Linked DNA regions of Homo sapiens: region 1 is linked to region 2. A link means that fine-mapping ties the variant in region 2 to the expression of a gene that starts in the linked region. Tissue or cell type: thyroid. Region 2 holds a variant in brackets; the other region holds the start of a gene. All regions are shown on one strand. Distances are between the middles of the regions.

Evidence for each region. PIP is the estimated chance that this variant, and not a neighbour inherited with it, causes the effect.
Region 1: ZNF232 starts here. The variant in region 2 is fine-mapped to the expression of ZNF232 in thyroid (GTEx, PIP above 0.99). The same link has a PIP of 0.9 or more in aorta, coronary artery, esophagus muscle, left ventricle, lung and prostate.

The regions. Positions count from the first base shown.
Region 1 is chr17:5,107,517-5,115,516 of GRCh38, reverse strand. ZNF232 (zinc finger protein 232) reads left to right here and starts at 3,639. Exons shown (of 4, transcript NM_014519.6): 1 at 3,639-3,717; 2 at 5,649-6,123; 3 at 6,465-6,591. The coding sequence starts at 3,695. ZNF232-AS1 (ZNF232 antisense RNA 1) reads right to left here and starts at 3,582. Exons shown (of 3, transcript NR_135658.1): 1 at 3,416-3,582; 2 at 2,065-2,131; 3 at 1,135-1,359. RefSeq lists an enhancer at 3,279-3,328.
Region 2 is chr17:5,652,545-5,660,803 of GRCh38, reverse strand. No RefSeq gene overlaps it. Among named protein-coding and RNA genes, the nearest start is that of NLRP1, 72 kb to the right of the region's middle. The variant G/A (reference allele first, on the strand shown) is at 3,452.

The DNA.
Region 1 (8,000 bases), 550 kb after region 2:
TGCAGTGGCGCCATCTCGGCTCACTGTAACCTCCGCCTCCCGGGTTAAAGCTGTTGTCCCGCCTCAGCCTCCCGAGTAGCTGGGATTACAGGCGCCCCCCACCACGCCAGGCTAATTTTGTATTTTTAGTAGAGAGAGGGTTTCACCATGTTGGCCAGGCTGGTCTTGAACTCCTGACCTCAGGTGATCCACTGGCCTCGGCCTCGCAAAGTGCTGGAATTACAGGCACGACCCACCACATCCGGCCCTCTGTTCCTTGTTTCGAAATAACTCAATTAAAAGTCAGAGGCTCACTGGCCACATCTCCTTCCACCCACCCACCGCCCCACCCCCCAAAAGATGCCTCTAGCAAATAAAATGAGACGTCCTGATGCCTTCCTGGCTCGTTCCAGAATTTTTAGCTTTGACTTTTGACGTGGGGTCCTTCTACCTAAAGTCCCCGCCGTCACATCAGCCCCCAGTTTTCCTCTGTCTTAGCTCGGGCTGCCGTAACAAAATACCATAGACTGGATGCCAGACAACAGAAATTTATTTTCTCAGTTTTGGAGGCTGCAAGGCTGTGACCAGGGCCCAACATGGTCAGGTTCTGGTGAGAGCTCCCTGGCTGCCTTCTCACAGGGTCCTCACATGGCAGAGAGAGAGGGACCCAAAGCCCTCTGGTGTCTTTTTTGTTTGTTTGTTATTTTTTGGGACGGAGTCTCACACTGCTGCCAGGCTGGAGTGCAGTGGCCCGATCTCGGCTCACTGCAACCTCCACCTCCCAGGTTCAAGTAATTCTCCAGCCCCAGCCTCCCAATTAGCTGGGATTACAGGCACCCACCACCACACCCGGCTAATTTTTGTATTTTTAGTAGAGAGGGGCTTTCACCATGCTGGCCAGGCTGGTCTCGAACTCCTGAGCCCAGCTGATCCACCCGCCTCGGTTTCCCAAAGTGCTGGGATTACAGGCGTGAGCCACTGCGCCTGGCCAGAACTCAGTCCTTACAGAACATCAGAGAATCCATACAAGGTGAGAGAGAGGCCTTATAAATGCATTGGGTGTGGGAAAGATTTGAAGGGGAGCTCACAACTTATTCAGCATCAAAGAATTCACAGTGGAAAGAAACTTTGTGAATGCAATGAATGTTCAAAGACTTGTAATCAGAGCTCACACTTTATTCGACATCATAGAATTCATAGTGGAGAAAAGCCCTATGAATGTGACAAGCATGGGAAAGCCTTCAGATGGAGCTCAGACCTTGTGAGGCATCTGGAAATTCATATTGGAGATAAAGTTTTGGAATGTAGCGAGCGTGGAAGAATTTTCAATCAGAGCTCAGGTCTAATGCAGCACCAAAGAAACCATACAGAATCATAACCCTAGGAAGACAGTAATGATAAAGATGTCAGTATGTACATATAGGAAGAGAGAAGGAGAGTTTGTTTTTGTCCTAACTATTTGGAAAATTGTAAGCTTCCTAAGAGCAATTTTCATCTGATTCAGTGTATAGTACTTAGTCTCAGGTCATGTGCAGATATGTCCTTCCCAAATGCTTACCACAAGATAAATCAGAAATCTTGACTGGAATAAGCTTCTAGTTCCTTTGCTTTATCATGAGAGGTTCCACACCACAGGAAAATCTTGTAAATGGTGGAAGCTGCATAAAGCACCATCATCATCACAAAATGGTGTCCTTGTGTGTCCTGTTTAGCAGCACCGAGAATCTAATAGCTTTCCCCTTGTCTGTTTTTCCTTACTATGAATTGTGCCAGGGGAACAGTAAAATGGGTATGATATCCTGAACTCTAGGGTGGATGTCTTTCTGGGACAGAATCTAATCCAAAAGTCTGCAAATGGACTTGAGGTTTTCACATTAGTATAAATGTCAATATGTAGTTTAGGGAATTTGCCTTATTCCTCCATTCCTAGCAAAATTAGATACAGAAGCAGCTAATTAAATCAGGAAAAGGAAACTGACAGTAAGTCATAGGACCCATTGTCTTCTCTCATGTAAAAGTAGAAGTTGTGATTCAATCTGTTCTGTAGGATTTAAAAGTATAATGGCACATTGAAGTTTGACATACTGAAATTCAGGCTCTGTCAATTTCATCTCTGTAACCTTTATTGTTTCTGAGTCTTGAGTTTTCTCATCTGTAAAATCAAGATAATGACATTAATACAATCCCTTGTGGAGCAACTGTGAAGACTAAATAAGACAATTTCATTAAGTTCCTGGCATAGTTCTAGACACGTAGTAGACATTCAACAAATGATAACTATTTTTATCCATAGCTCCTACGTGCAGTAATTATCAATGGCACTTTGAAGGAAAAAAGATAATATATCCCCCAGCCATGGGGGTGTCAATGCGCATTTTCAAGGATACTATATCTTGGAGAAACAAATTTAATAATCTGAGAATCTGAGAACTGTTACTATGGTACTACACAGTTGAACAACAATTTTTCTTGGAGAGACTAGGATTAAGCTATTTTATAAAAGTATTGAGAGACTGGATCAATCAATATCCTGCAAAATTGATAGTGAGATAAATTTATTTTTAATTAATTTTTTTTTTGAGACGGAGTCTCACTCTGTCGCCCAGGCTAGAGTGCAGTGGCACAATCTCAGCTTATTGCAACCTCTGCCTCCCGGGTTCAAACGATTCTCCTGCCTCCTGAGTAGTGGGGACTACAGGCGCCCGCCACCACGCCCAGCTAACCTTTTTGTATTTTTAATAGAGACAGGGTTTCACCATGTTGGCCACCATGTCTCAAAAAAAAAATAAAAAATAATCGGCCGGGCGCCTGTAAACCCAGCACTTTGGGAGGCCGAGACGGGCGGATCACGAGGTCAGGAGATCGAGACCATCCTGGCTAATATGGTGAAACGCCGTGTCTCCTACCAAAAAAAAAAAATTAGCCGGGCGTGGTGGCGGGCGCCTCTAGTCCCAGCTACTCAGGAGGCTGAGGCAGGAGAATGGCGTGAACCCGGGAGGCGGAGCTTGCAGTGAGCCAAGATCGCGCCACTGCACTCCAGCCTGGGCGACAGAGCAAGACTCCGTCTCAAATAAATAAATAAAATAAAAAATAACAACAACAAAAAAACACCAACCCCTATTTCCCCCATCGCAATAAAATTAACCTTAGAATTCTTTTTTCTCCTCCCCTCCCCCTACGCCCCAGGAATTGTACAGGCTAGTGGTTGGGGAATATTTTTTCGTGGAAGGGACCGTCTTCCTTAGCTGTGGCCCTCTCATCAGGTCTGGGAAGAGGTAATTGGAAAATAGAACTCATGGAGAAGTGTTACCACAGGCCATGGACAAGGCCAGAATTTCCCTGACATCTGTCCGCCAGCACCGCCCTTCAGGTACAATTCCACAAGAGACCCCCCAAACTTGATGAAGTCACCCGCTTACAAGGGCTCACTCTCCACCTGCGCAAGGACTGCAATTCCCAGGGGCCTCCAGGGCACCCGGCCGCTCCAGTCCAGTCGTGCAGGCGGCGCGCTCTTTCTCGCTCCGCTCAAGTCCAGGAACCGGTTCCCGGGCTCCCAGCCTCTCGGCAGCGCCCACGCGCCTGGGCCAAAGTCCGCGAACGGAAGCCGGCGGCGAGGAGGATTCTGGGAGTTGGAGGCCGAGGCTGCGACCTGCGCAGGCGCAAACCTGCCCCTGGGGTGAGGGCTGTAAGTGGCGCGATTCGCGGCAGCGCCCCGATGGAACCTCCTGGTCCTGTGAGGTGAGTGTTGGCGGCGGCTTCCCCGAGGTCCACCTGGCGGCTTGGCTTTTGCCCGTCCCGCAGGCAGCGGCGGCTCTGCAGTGAGCAGGCCTGGCAGGCAGCTCCGCGGTTGTGTGTGGAGAGGGGTTTGGGTTGCCCGTGGTGCCCGCGCTGCGCTACCTGCGTTGCGTCGCGTCACGTGCCGTGGAGGGGGGTCTTGATGTTCCTCTTCTCTTTTCTCGAGACCCTTGGGTAGGGAGTGAAGGGTGGGAAGGGGAGTTGTACCTGGCCTGGACGACAGCCCCCTCCCCGGGCGGGCACCTGCCCGAGGCCGGGGTAGAGAAGTTTTGCTGGGGCCAGCGGCGCCGGGCATCACCCTGGGAGACGCGAGCTCCGCGTTTTTCCTCGCGCCTCCTTTGTCTTAGGCCAGCGGTCCCCCTTTGTGCTCCTTTCGTGGCCTCTGATGCGTTCCACCTCCTTCCCTGTGTGAAAGGAAAATAAAATCTCAGGACCCCAAACTTACTATGACAAAGGGAAAAGTTAAGCTTGGAAACTGAGTCACGGAAAAAAACTGCTTTTCCTTTTGTTCCTAAACCGATAGCTGCAAGATAGAAAGCAACATATGCCCCCAGGTGGCCTCCCTCACCCTGGCAATGGAAACGAACAGCCGAGCTTCACCGGACAAGACTAGAAATCGTTCCTCCACCCACCCAGAGACAAAGCATATTTGACTTCTTCCTCTACTGTATGTCTACCTTATCTTGTGTAAAATGCAGATTTACTGAGCACGAGACAAATTCATAATTGACTTCCTCTTTTCACGTGCAACATGTGGATTCAGTGAGCTCTAATCAAATCCTCACAAGAATGTGGCCACTTACCTCACCACATACCCTCCCTCTTCTCTCCTCCTTCCCCTCCTGCCAGCTTTCTCCCCATTAAATTGAAGCCCTCAAAACCCTCTTTGGTAAAAGTGCGAGCCACGGATCCTACTGTGGCTTGTGTGTCTTTTTCCTGGGTGCATCCTCAACCTTAGCAAAATAACCCCTAAATTGGTTGAGACCTATCTCAGATGCTTTTTTGGTTTACACCTGTTAGATTTCCTTGACGCAGGCCACTGTACCCGAGACTTGTTCATAGCTGCCCCTTAATAGGGCTTTGGCATTTGAATGAGATCCAGCTCCTTAAAGGGGACTTATATTTTTCTTTTGCTGTAGCTACTACTTCAGAAATTTTTGAAAGCAGGGAGGAGCCATCTCAGAGGAGGCTGCCTCCCCAACACATTCCACCTTGCACTGAAAGCTGCTCGGCTCTGGGCTCTGCATCTGGAAACTTGGGTTTTGCTTCAAACTTATTTCTTCCAATAGTCATTTCTTCCCATAGGCCCCCAGAACTTTTTTTTTCTTGATACATTTTTCCTGTCAATGGCATTTAATTAGTTGTATTATAGAAAACCACTTTACATCCCCGTTTCTACCACGGTGCAAGTTTCTCAAAAACATTGACTTAGTGCAGCAGAATTCTGGGGAGGGGTGGAAGAAAAAGCGGGACTACAGGGCATAGGACAGGGTTTGGCTCTTTGGAGTGTTGAGTATATGTATATGTTTAATGAATGAAAAAAGAAGAGGAGGACGGGCGCGGTGGCTCATGCCTGTAATCCTACCACTTTGGGAGGCCGAGGTGGGTGGGTCACCTGAGGTCAGGAGTTCAAGACCAGCCTGGCCAATATGGCAAAACCCCGTCCCTACTAAAAATACAAAAAAATTAGCTGGATGTGGTGGCAGGCGCCTGTAATCCCAGCTACTTGGGAGGCTGAGGTAGGAGAATCGCTAGAACCCCGGGGGTGGAGGTTGCAGTGAGCTGAGATCATGTCACTGCACTCCAGCCTGGGTAACAGAGAAAGACTCTGTCTTAAAAAAAAAAAAGAGGAATGATTTCTTCTTATGTTACAGGGGGCCCTTGCAAGATTCCAGCTGGTATGAGCCTTCTGCAGAGCTAGTGCAGACTAGGATGGCTGTATCACTAACAGCAGCTGAAACTCTGGCCCTTCAGGGTACACAGGGACAAGAGAAGATGATGATGATGGGACCAAAGGAAGAGGAACAGTCTTGTGAGTATGAGACCAGGCTACCTGGGAACCACTCTACCAGTCAAGAGATCTTCCGCCAACGCTTCAGGCATCTCCGCTACCAGGAGACTCCTGGTCCCCGGGAGGCCTTGAGCCAACTACGAGTACTCTGCTGTGAGTGGCTGAGGCCAGAGAAACACACGAAGGAGCAGATCCTGGAGTTCCTGGTGCTGGAACAATTCTTGACCATCCTGCCTGAGGAGCTCCAATCCTGGGTGCGGGGACATCACCCTAAGAGTGGAGAGGAGGCTGTGACTGTGCTGGAGGATTTAGAGAAAGGACTTGAACCAGAGCCGCAGGTGGGAAGGGGGATTTGGTCTGTTATGGGAGCCAGATTGATGACCTTCAGGCTGGACCGAGGGGCAGCTGTAGGGGGAGGTGCCAAGTTCAAACCTCTCTTGGGCCAGGTAGAGCAGTTAGTATGTGTTTCTGTGTCTGTCTTTTCTGCCCTCGAGCCCTGAATGAGAAAGAGACTCTAGCTCCTCTTCTTCCCTTGTGCTGACTCTGAGGAGGCTCTCTAAAGTCTCCTTGGAAGCTTTGGTCCAAGGAGGGTCACATCTGCAAGTGTCCAGGCAGGGGACAGAAACCACACTAGTAATTTGAAGAAAATTTAAACTGAGTGGTGCCTGATCACCTCCAGGTCCCAGGCCCTGCACATGGACCTGCACAGGAAGAGCCATGGGAGAAGAAGGAATCTCTGGGAGCAGCCCAGGAAGCACTGAGCATCCAGCTCCAGCCTAAGGAGACCCAGCCTTTCCCAAAGAGTGGTGAGGAGCAGGATTCTGTGGGGAGGGAGAGGAGAAAGAGGGACTATAAAGGGCACAGTACCTAGTACCTGTAAAGGGTAAATAGTAGTAGGTGCTTAAATGTTTGGTATCATCACAGCCTTACTATTCTTATCTCTTAGGTGAGAGACTTTGCCTGTTTCATCACTCATAAAATTAGGAGTAAGAATAAACTACCTCATAAGATAGCTCTGAGGATTAAGCTCAACTTGGGTCTTATCTGGATATAAAGCCTGGCCAGCATCTCTTAACTTTAGAGAGCCCTAAATCAGGACCAGGAAATAGCTCATTCATTTATGCCTTATCATCTCCACTGCACTTAACTCCTAGTCTATAATAACTCTGCCCTGAGCTAGAGGCCAGCCTTGAGATCCTTTTTTTTTTTTTAAACTCGCTGAGGCCTCGCAAAACACTTTTTAAGCCATAAAGCACTCCTATGTGAGATACAGCCTGTCATCACCTTTACCACCTCTTCCTCATGTAAACAGCCCTATCTGAAACTCTCTTATGTGTGCCCTCACCTTCTACCCTTCAGATTCACTACAGAAACTTCCTTCTTGGCCTGCATACATACCTGCAAACAACCTCTCCTCTCTCCCAGCGGCGAACACTAGACTTAGAGCCTCAGGGGCGTGAACTCTCCTTGTTGACCTCTGTAGCCTTGTGACCGTATTGTGAATATGCGGCTAACCAAGAAGAGTCTACTTGATATTTGCTTTTACACCATAACTGCCCCCCCATCACTATCACCAAACCAAGGCATTTGAAAAATCAAATTCTTCTTAGTTACAAAATGGGAAAAAATAGAAATGGAGATTAATTAGACTCTGTCCCAAAAGTATGTTTCTACTTCTTAGCTCTTCTTTCTTCCTTGACTTTTTTCCAGACTTTTTCTTGTCTCCTTTACTTCTGTTTAGTAAGCCTCTATTCATTTATCAATTTTATTACTTTACTCTCAAAAAGAAGCTAGCTATTGTGTGATTTTTTTTTTATATATAGCAAGCATATTTCAGATTTTTTTAACCACAGCATTTAACCTGAAAAAATGAATTTTTAAAAAATCAAATGATCTTGGCTGGGCACGGTGGCTCACGCCTATAATCCCAGCACTTTGGGAGGCTAAGGCAGGTGGATCACTTGGGTCAGGAGTTCAAGACCAGCCTGGCCAACATGGTGAAACCCTGTCTCTACTAAAAATTCAAAAATTAGCCAGGTGTGATACGCGCCTGTAATCCCAGCTACTGGGGAGGCTGAGGCACGAGAATCACTTGAACCAGGGAAGCAGAGGTTGCAGTGAGCCAAGATCATGCCACTACACTCCAGCCTGGGCAACAGAGCAAGACTCTGTCAAAAAAAAAAAAAAAGTCAAATGACCTTGAGTTATCTTAAAG
Region 2 (8,259 bases):
CAAAACAATTTAAAAAATAAAGAATAAGTGAACACACCATGTCTCCCAACCAGGAAAAAAGAAACCAAAAATAAGAAGATCATCCTATCTAGTTCTGGCCCCCCAAAACAAATGAAATCTTGAGCCTTTCCCTTAGTTGGCTAACTTCATAACAAAACAATTTTTATCTCTGACTTGGGCAATGCTGATATCTAAAAATTTGTCACGACTTTTATGGGTGTGATAATATGTGAGAAAATTGCTATTTTCCGCCATGAATGGACTCAAAACAAACTCAGTGACCTTGGAAGGTTTGTCGTGCTTTTTTCCTTAAATTCCTGTTGTGTTTTATTTGATAAACCAGAGTCTTTATGAATTCTGACTCTCTTGAGCTTCTTTACAAGTAAGCTCTTTCTTTTTTTCTAAATGCTATTGTCTCTGAGCCTTACTTTCACATTAAGTAATACACAGAACTATTGAGCAGGACAGAGAAACAGATTCAAGGTTAAGTTTCCATAAGGAACATCTAAAACTTTGTCAAAGAACCAGTCTGAAGTGGAGTCATGTGGCTGGCCCTGGCGTGCACTGAATGTCTGGCTCTCAGCAAAACAGCACAAACAGGAGGTTCCCAGGACGGGGAATACATCCCCCTGGAAATCAGACCCCTGCAGGCGTCAGGCAGGTGGGTGACTGCACCAAGACCCAGCACAGCCTTTGAATCCCTGTGGATGTGGATTGGAATCTTGTCTCTACCATTCATGTTACCTTAGGTAAGTCTCTTAGCCTTTCTGAGCCTCAGTTTCCTCCTCTGTACAATGGGAATAATTAGAATCCACTTCTTTGATCTACTTAGGTTTAAAGGGCCAGAAGCAAAAAAAGGCCCTCAACACACAGAACTTTGCTTCCTATCCTGAGCTTAGAGGAACCAATGTTGGGCTGGGGTCCAGGGATGGGCCACTACCCCTAAGAAGGGGCAGTTAGAAAGGATGAGGAGGGAAACAGGGCCTCATAGCGACTGAAAGAAGTAGAGCTGGGAATGGACCCAGCTGTTAGAAGTGGGAACCCTGGCCAGGCGCGGTGGCTCACGCCTGTGATCCCAGCACTTTGGGAGGCCGAGGCGGGTGGATCACCTGAGGTCAGGAGTTCAAGACCAGCCTGGCCAACATGGTGAAACCCTGTCTCTACTAAAAATACAAAAATTAGCTGGATGTGCTGACAGCCACCTGTAATCCCAGCTGCTCCGGAGGCTGAGGCAGCAGAATCGCTTGAACCCAGGAGGTGGAGGTTGCAGTGAGCCGAGATCATGCCACTGCACTCCAGCCTGGGCGACAAGAGCGAAACACTGTCTCAAAAAAGAAAAGAAGAGAAGAGAAGAGAAGAGAAGAGAAGAGAAGAGAAGAGAAGAGAAGAGAAGAGAAGAGAAGAGAAGAGAAAAGAAACGAAACGAAAAGAAAAGAAAAGAAAAGAAAAGGGAATCCCAGCAGTTGGGGGAAGGAGAGGAGAGGCTGGGGCTCTAGATGGAGGCCGAGGCCTGGTTAGCATAACTCAACCCTAGCATCAGCGGCTGACGGGCTGACAGTAGGACTTGATGCTGAGCCCAGAAGGGGAGGCTAGAACTCTTCCACATCTCCAACCTCAAGTGAGGCTTGATCCTGCACCTGGGCTCTGGCCAAGCCTACTTCCGGGCCTGATGGCCCCTGCTGTGAAAAGAGGAGGGTCTCACAGTGTTGCTGCCGAGGAAGAAAGGGCTGCCTAGGGGTGAGGGGTGAAGCCTCCCTGGGCTACATCCCTGACTCCCACTTCTGTCCGTGGTGAATGGGGATGTGGCTGTTTCCAAACTCAGCTACATTTATTATCTCTGAGCCCTGCTCCCTGAGCAGCTTTTACGTAAAGCACGACGTGACTCTGCAAATGGACAACCTTGGCCACGCCAGTGGAAGAAGTCAAGTTGCCTTTTAGTTCCAGCCTTCGCATGCACTGCCACTCCCTCTCTTCATAGCCATACTGTAGTGTGTCCTCTTTGCACCCAATGGCCCATCTTCCTGCCATTCAGCAGATGTGAGGGGCAAAAGAGGGCAGGTGTGGCAAGGCATTGCCAAGCACAAGCATGGGCCAGCGTGTATCCTCTTCCCTAATCCCTGGCTGGCCCCCTAGACCAGAGGCCTCCTTAAGGGAAAAATCACCAACATGGCCCCTGAATGGCTGCAAACTCTGAGCCAGCTCCACCCTCCCCAGCCCCAAACCCATGGCTTCAGAAGTCAGCCTTGCCTTCTGGGCCTCAAGAATATCAAAGCCACATAGCTCTTGCATGGAGGCTTGGCTTGACCTTATGGGCTTACAAAAAGCTTCCATGTTTCCAATCTTATTAAATCCTCACAGCAACCCTGATAGGTAGGCCAAGCAATAATTAACCACTGCATTGCTCAGCCAGGAAGCTAAAGCTCAGAGAGGGCAGGTGGCTTGTGCATTGCTCAGCCAGGGAGCTAAAGCTCAGAGAGGGCAGGTGACTTGCACAAGGTCACAAAGCTAGTAAGTACCAGAAGCGAAATAAACATCCAAGTCTCTGGCCTCAAGGATCACACTTTCTGTTCTCTGCTTCAGCCATGCCTTTCTAGGGGTAAGCTTCCCATCAGTCAGATGGGCAAGCTGAAAGTGTGGAGGGTCTTTCTCGGGAACTGGCATCTAGAGGGTTGCCCAAAGCCCAAGGTCAGGTCATGTGCAGATTTGTCGTCAGTGCTTTGGGCAACATGAACCACAGACCTAAAACAGTAGCCAAAATCCTTCCCCATCACAAAAAGGAGACACAGAACATCAGGCAAAGGCTTCTTTCAGTTCTCCCTCCACTTAAGCAGCGAAAAGGACACCGTGCTCCCCACCAGGCCCTCAGGTAGAGTCCAGGTTCTGCCACGTAAGTCATGTGGCTTTGGGTAAAGCAGCTCAACTCCCTGAACTCAATGTCTTCATCTTTAAAGTGGGAATGATACCTCCATCCCCAATCTCGACACAGCCCAGCTCCCTGCTTCAGACCTGGGGACTGTGGATTCTCACCGTTCCCTCTCAGGCTCCCCTGAGAAAGAGAAGGCTCACATGGCATCCCCTCCCTCCCTTCCTGATCCCCAACCTCCACCTCCCAGCCCCAGATCAAACCCAGTTTACCAGGAGCCAAAACAAGGAGCTCAGTGCAATGGAAAAATCAGCCCAAGCAATTGTCTGACCAAATTGACTTGTCAGTCACCCTGCCCAGACAGGGCCTGGGAGAATCACCTGATCTGCACACAGGAAAGAATGATTTGTAAGCGTTGAGGCCAGGAGGAAAAACACCCAGGAAAGCCCCGACACAGAGACAACAACTCAGTCTGGGTTTCCATAGCAATCCCAGGAGGAACAGGAGGAGCTCATGCCAGGATCATTCAAGAGATGGCAGCCAGCAATCACCTTGCTCCGCCATCCACCGCTGAGCCATCTGCCCCAC[G/A]TCACTGAAGCAACAGGTTCCCTCTGCAAAGCCACCAACCCACGTGCCCAATCATCCAGCCCCAGAAAAATTTGAGATCTCCCCACCCTCTCTCCAGAGTCTGCTATGGTTTGGGAGAGGAACCCTAAAGCCATGTCCATACAATAATACATGGAAAATATGTGCAATCTTTTTTTGTTGTTGTTGTTGAGACGGAGTGTTGCTCTGTCACCCAGGCTGGAGTGCAGTGGCACGATCTTGGCTCACTGCAAGCTCCACCTCCTGGGTTCACACCATTCTCCTGCCTCAGCCTCCTGAGTAGCTGGGACTACAGGTGCCCGCCACCACGCCTGGCTAATTTTTTTGTATTTTTAGTAGAAACGGGGTTTCACCTTGTTAGCCAGGATGGCCTCGATCTCCTGACCTCATGATCCGTCCGCCTTGGCCTCCCAAAGTGCTGGGATTACAGGCATGAGCCACCACGCCTGGCCAATATGTGTAATCTTAAGTAAAAACATTACATCTACATATTTGTTCTGAGAGTCTAAGAAGAAAGAGCTCAAGACAGCAGAGCTTGCCCCCCTAAAGACTAGCATGTTTTTATGGCAGACACACACCTCAAAATCAGGACCGTGAAAAGTGAGTTACAAATAACTCACTTTTCTTCCTCTGAGAAGTATTAACTACCTCTGAGATTTCAGCATTTAAAACGGTTCTTTTCCTTATGCACTTTGACTTGATCTGTCTGTAGCATTTCTTATTTGGCAATAGGTATTTCCTACACCACCTGCTCTGGAAATAATACGAAATATACTCCAGGTGTGGCAAAGTCCCTCTGTTCTGTTCCAAGTGTGTTTTTGATTGCTCGTGGTACAGGCTGAGGGAGGGAAGTTTGCTAAAAATTTGGGAAATTCAGTAACTGTCGCTGCCTCCTGCACCCGCGGTTGGGGTCTTCTCTACACCTTCTCTTCCACCCTTGCTTCTTTCCAGCTTCTATCCCTTCCTTTGGTGACCCATTGGGTCCTTCTGTTTTGTTAAGATGCTCCCGCTGGGTGCCAGCACAGGCTCTCCCCAACTCCATCCTTGCTGAGTCACAAAGTAGAAGGTGTGTATGGGAGAAACTGGGTGTGGGGTATACGGGAACTCTCTGTAATATTCTTGCAACTTTCCTATACATCTAAAACTATTCTAAACTGAAACAGTTATTTTAAAATAAAATAACCAACCAAAGAGGAGGGTGCGGGCTCTGCTCCCAGGAGCGAGGAGAAAGCGTGGCCTGGAATCCTCATTCAGAGTTTACGTAAGGCCCAAAGACACCACATCAGAGCAAGTCATAATGTTTCCCACATGAGAAAAGGTTATTCCTCCTGTTAAGACAACATTGACCTTGTCCTTTAAGAGAAACTATTCCAGCACATTGTTGTGCTAAGAAACATTTGACTCTGCATTCCCACTGTGAATGACACCCTCTCTGAGGGCATGGCACCAACTCTGACTGGCGTGTTTGTTTCAAATCTCTCTCTCTCTCTTTCTCTCTCTCTCTCTCTCTCTCTCTCTCTCTCTCACACACACACAAACACACACCCCTACTCATTATAATGGAGGGGGCAATGCATCTTGCCACATCATAAAAATTGAACTTGCATGGGGTTAATAATTATTTGAATAGTGTTACATCATAGTGTGTTATTATAATTGTTTGAATGTCTTGGATATAACAGAAGTGGAGGACCTATCACCTCGCTGAACCTGCACAACCTCTCCCTGAGGCAGGCATTGTGACCTCCATTTCACAGCTTGGGAAGCTCATTCAAAGAGGAAGGCCGTTTGCCCAAGCTGTGAGGTTAGTCCATGGTGGAGCTGAGATCCAGCCCCAGGCCTCTCTGCCTCCAGGGCCAAGACGGTTCTCCCTTATTCCACAGCTACTCCAGGCACGGTTTTCTCTTTCGACCAAACAAGACCCAAATTTCAGCAGAGACTCCTGAGACGTGCTGAGGATGGGGGAGATTCCCTGTGTCCATCATCCCAGAGCCAACGCTCTTCATTGAACAACTGTTAGAAGGAATCCCATGTGCTCAGATACATTTCACCTGATATTCTAACACAAGACAGCGGGGGCATCTTGTAGATATTGCTGAATTGGGCAGGAGAAAGCTCCTACCTGAAGTAATGTAACCAAAAGCCTTGCCTGGTTGGTAGGAAACACATCCGGGTTCAAGGAAATGCACCTGCCTGTTCTGACCACCAAGTTCTGTGTGGCCCAAGCTTCTCATCATTTAAGCATGAGCTTAAATGTCACCTCTCAGAGAGGCCTGCCCTGAGTCCCTGATCTCATGCATGTCCTCCTGTGAATCTGAATAGCTTCTAGAGCTTTTTCATAATAACAGCTACCATCATTTGTGAATTTATACTTATTGGTGAGCTCATAAGATTTTTTTTTCTTTTGAGATGGAGTCTCACTCTGTCGCCCAGGCTGGAGTGCAATGGCCTGGTCTCGGCTCACTGCAACCTCTGCCTCCCGAGTTCAAGCGATTCTCCTCCCTCAGCCTCCCGAGAAGCTGGGATTACAGGCATGCACCACCACACCTGGCTAATTTTTGTATTTTTAGTAGAGAGGAGGTTTCACCATGTTGGCCAGTCTAATCTCGAACTCCTGACCTCAGGTGATCCACCCACCTCAGCCTCCCAAAGTGCTGGGATTACAGGCATGAGCTACCATGCCCAGCCATATGCTCATAAGATTTAATGTCCTGTCCCCCCATTAGGAAAATGGACTCAGAACCTGTCTTGTTCATCCCTGTATTCGCAGGCATCCTTCTTTCCCAAAGTAAGCGCTCAATAAATATTTCAAGAAAGGCAGTTTAGAAAGCTGCCTTTCTAACACACAGAGGGTGTTCCTAATGCTTTTAACACAATGGAAGAGCAACGTACTTGAGCATGAGAGAGTCTGGAGATGGACAAAGGACAGAGAATGGAACACTGCTGCCCAGTGAGGTGGAAGCTACCCTGCAGTGCTCTGGACACTGACGTGGAGGGGAGCTGTCACGGTGACGAGGACCTTCACCTCGGGGGGAACTCACCCTCCAGGATGCCAAATCTGATAAGTCCTTTAGAGGCCTCCAATCAGATTCTGACCACACGCCACCCCTTCCAGTAACCTTGCAGACTCCAGGGACAATCATCTGCTCCTGGGGTCACTCTGTTCATTTTCCATAGCTGCTGCAACAAGTTATCACAGATTAAGTGGCTTAAAACTACACAAACTTATTAGCTTATGGTTCTGTAGGTCAGAAATTTGACATAAGTCTCACTGGGCTAAAATCAAGGACAGGACTATGGACAGGACTATGTTCCTCCTGGAGGCTGCAGGGGAGAATCCATGTCTTTGCCTCTTCTAGCTTCTAAAGGGTACCTGCATTCCCTGGCTCACGGCCCCTTCCACTACCTACAAAGCCAGCAGAGGCTGGTAGAGTCTTTCTCACAACCCATCGCTCCAACCTTCTCTTCTACCTCCCCTTTCTGTTTTTAAGGGCCCTTGGGATTGCATTGGTTTCACCAAGAACAATCCAGAATAATTTCTTCTTCTTAAGTCATCTGATTAGCAACCTTAATTCCACTTGCAACCTTAATTCCCCTTTGCTGTGTAAGCTAACAGATTCAGAGGTTCTGGGGATTAGGTTGTGGACATCTTGGGAGGGACATTATTCTCCCTGCCATAGTCAAAAATTTTGATGGCCACCACTGTCTCTAAAACCCAATGGGCTCCTGTGTACTGTGCTAACATGATGGAGAGGCCGTTTCCCTACTCACTGGCCTGACTAGAGCCCTGGCTTTCTTGGAAGCTGCCTGGGTGGCTCCCTGTGCTTTTCTAGAAACCTCCCAGGGTCCTGAGCAACCCCCTGTGTTTACTGCAATGCTGTGGTCAGCCCAGTAGCACACATCCTTGTATTTGCTTTGACTCCTTTTCTGCTTCACTTTCCCTTTTTCTCAGACATGATTCCTGGGACTTGCACCATCTTCCCCTAAATAAACCATCAGCAAGGAAACTTTTGTCTCAGGTTCTGTTCTCTAGGAAATGCAGACAACCACTGTCAAGTGTGACCCTAGAAAGCTGGAGCTCAAGAAGGGACTGTGGAGTTGGGTTGACCACACCACTTGAGTAGTAGGCACCGGTGGCTGGGGTAAAAGGGCAGTGGTAACCTTTGGCACATAATGACATCAATGCATTCACCTGTGTTTACGAGGATGAGTTTGGTGAGGAAGGTGACGTAGTAGAAGATCCACTCAGCCCTACCTATCCAACCTGGGTCTCTGCTATGTGTCTCATGTCCTAGCCAGGGCAGACCCAGTGACATCTCATCCTACTCCTATGGAAAGTCCCAGTGGCTGCTGCTGCCACTACCAACCAAGCTCCCACTCACAGCACCAGTGAATGAAGAGAGCTGGCCACATCAGCACAAGAGCCAGTCTGGGCCTTGGAGGCTCCAGCTTCCCAGAGGCTGCCTAGAGTTGCCCCCTCATGGTGTTTGGGGATTAATACCCATGGTTTTGATCCACGGGGAGACAGAGATCCATGGTTGATCCATCAGTGAGAAAGAGATTATGGGAAAGGTACAGTAAACACCTACCTTGCCCTTCCTCCCTCCCCATATACTGTTCTGAAGAGCAGGAGTCTCATACAGCCTTTCTGGAAGCGTTTCACAAGCTCAACACATCCTCTTGTATGTGCTCTCTCTCCTTTCTCCTTCCCTTGCTTTTATGTTGCCTCATTCTTCCTTCCCTGGAATTACACCATTCAACAAAGCATTGGATGTAAGTTTTTGCCTCTA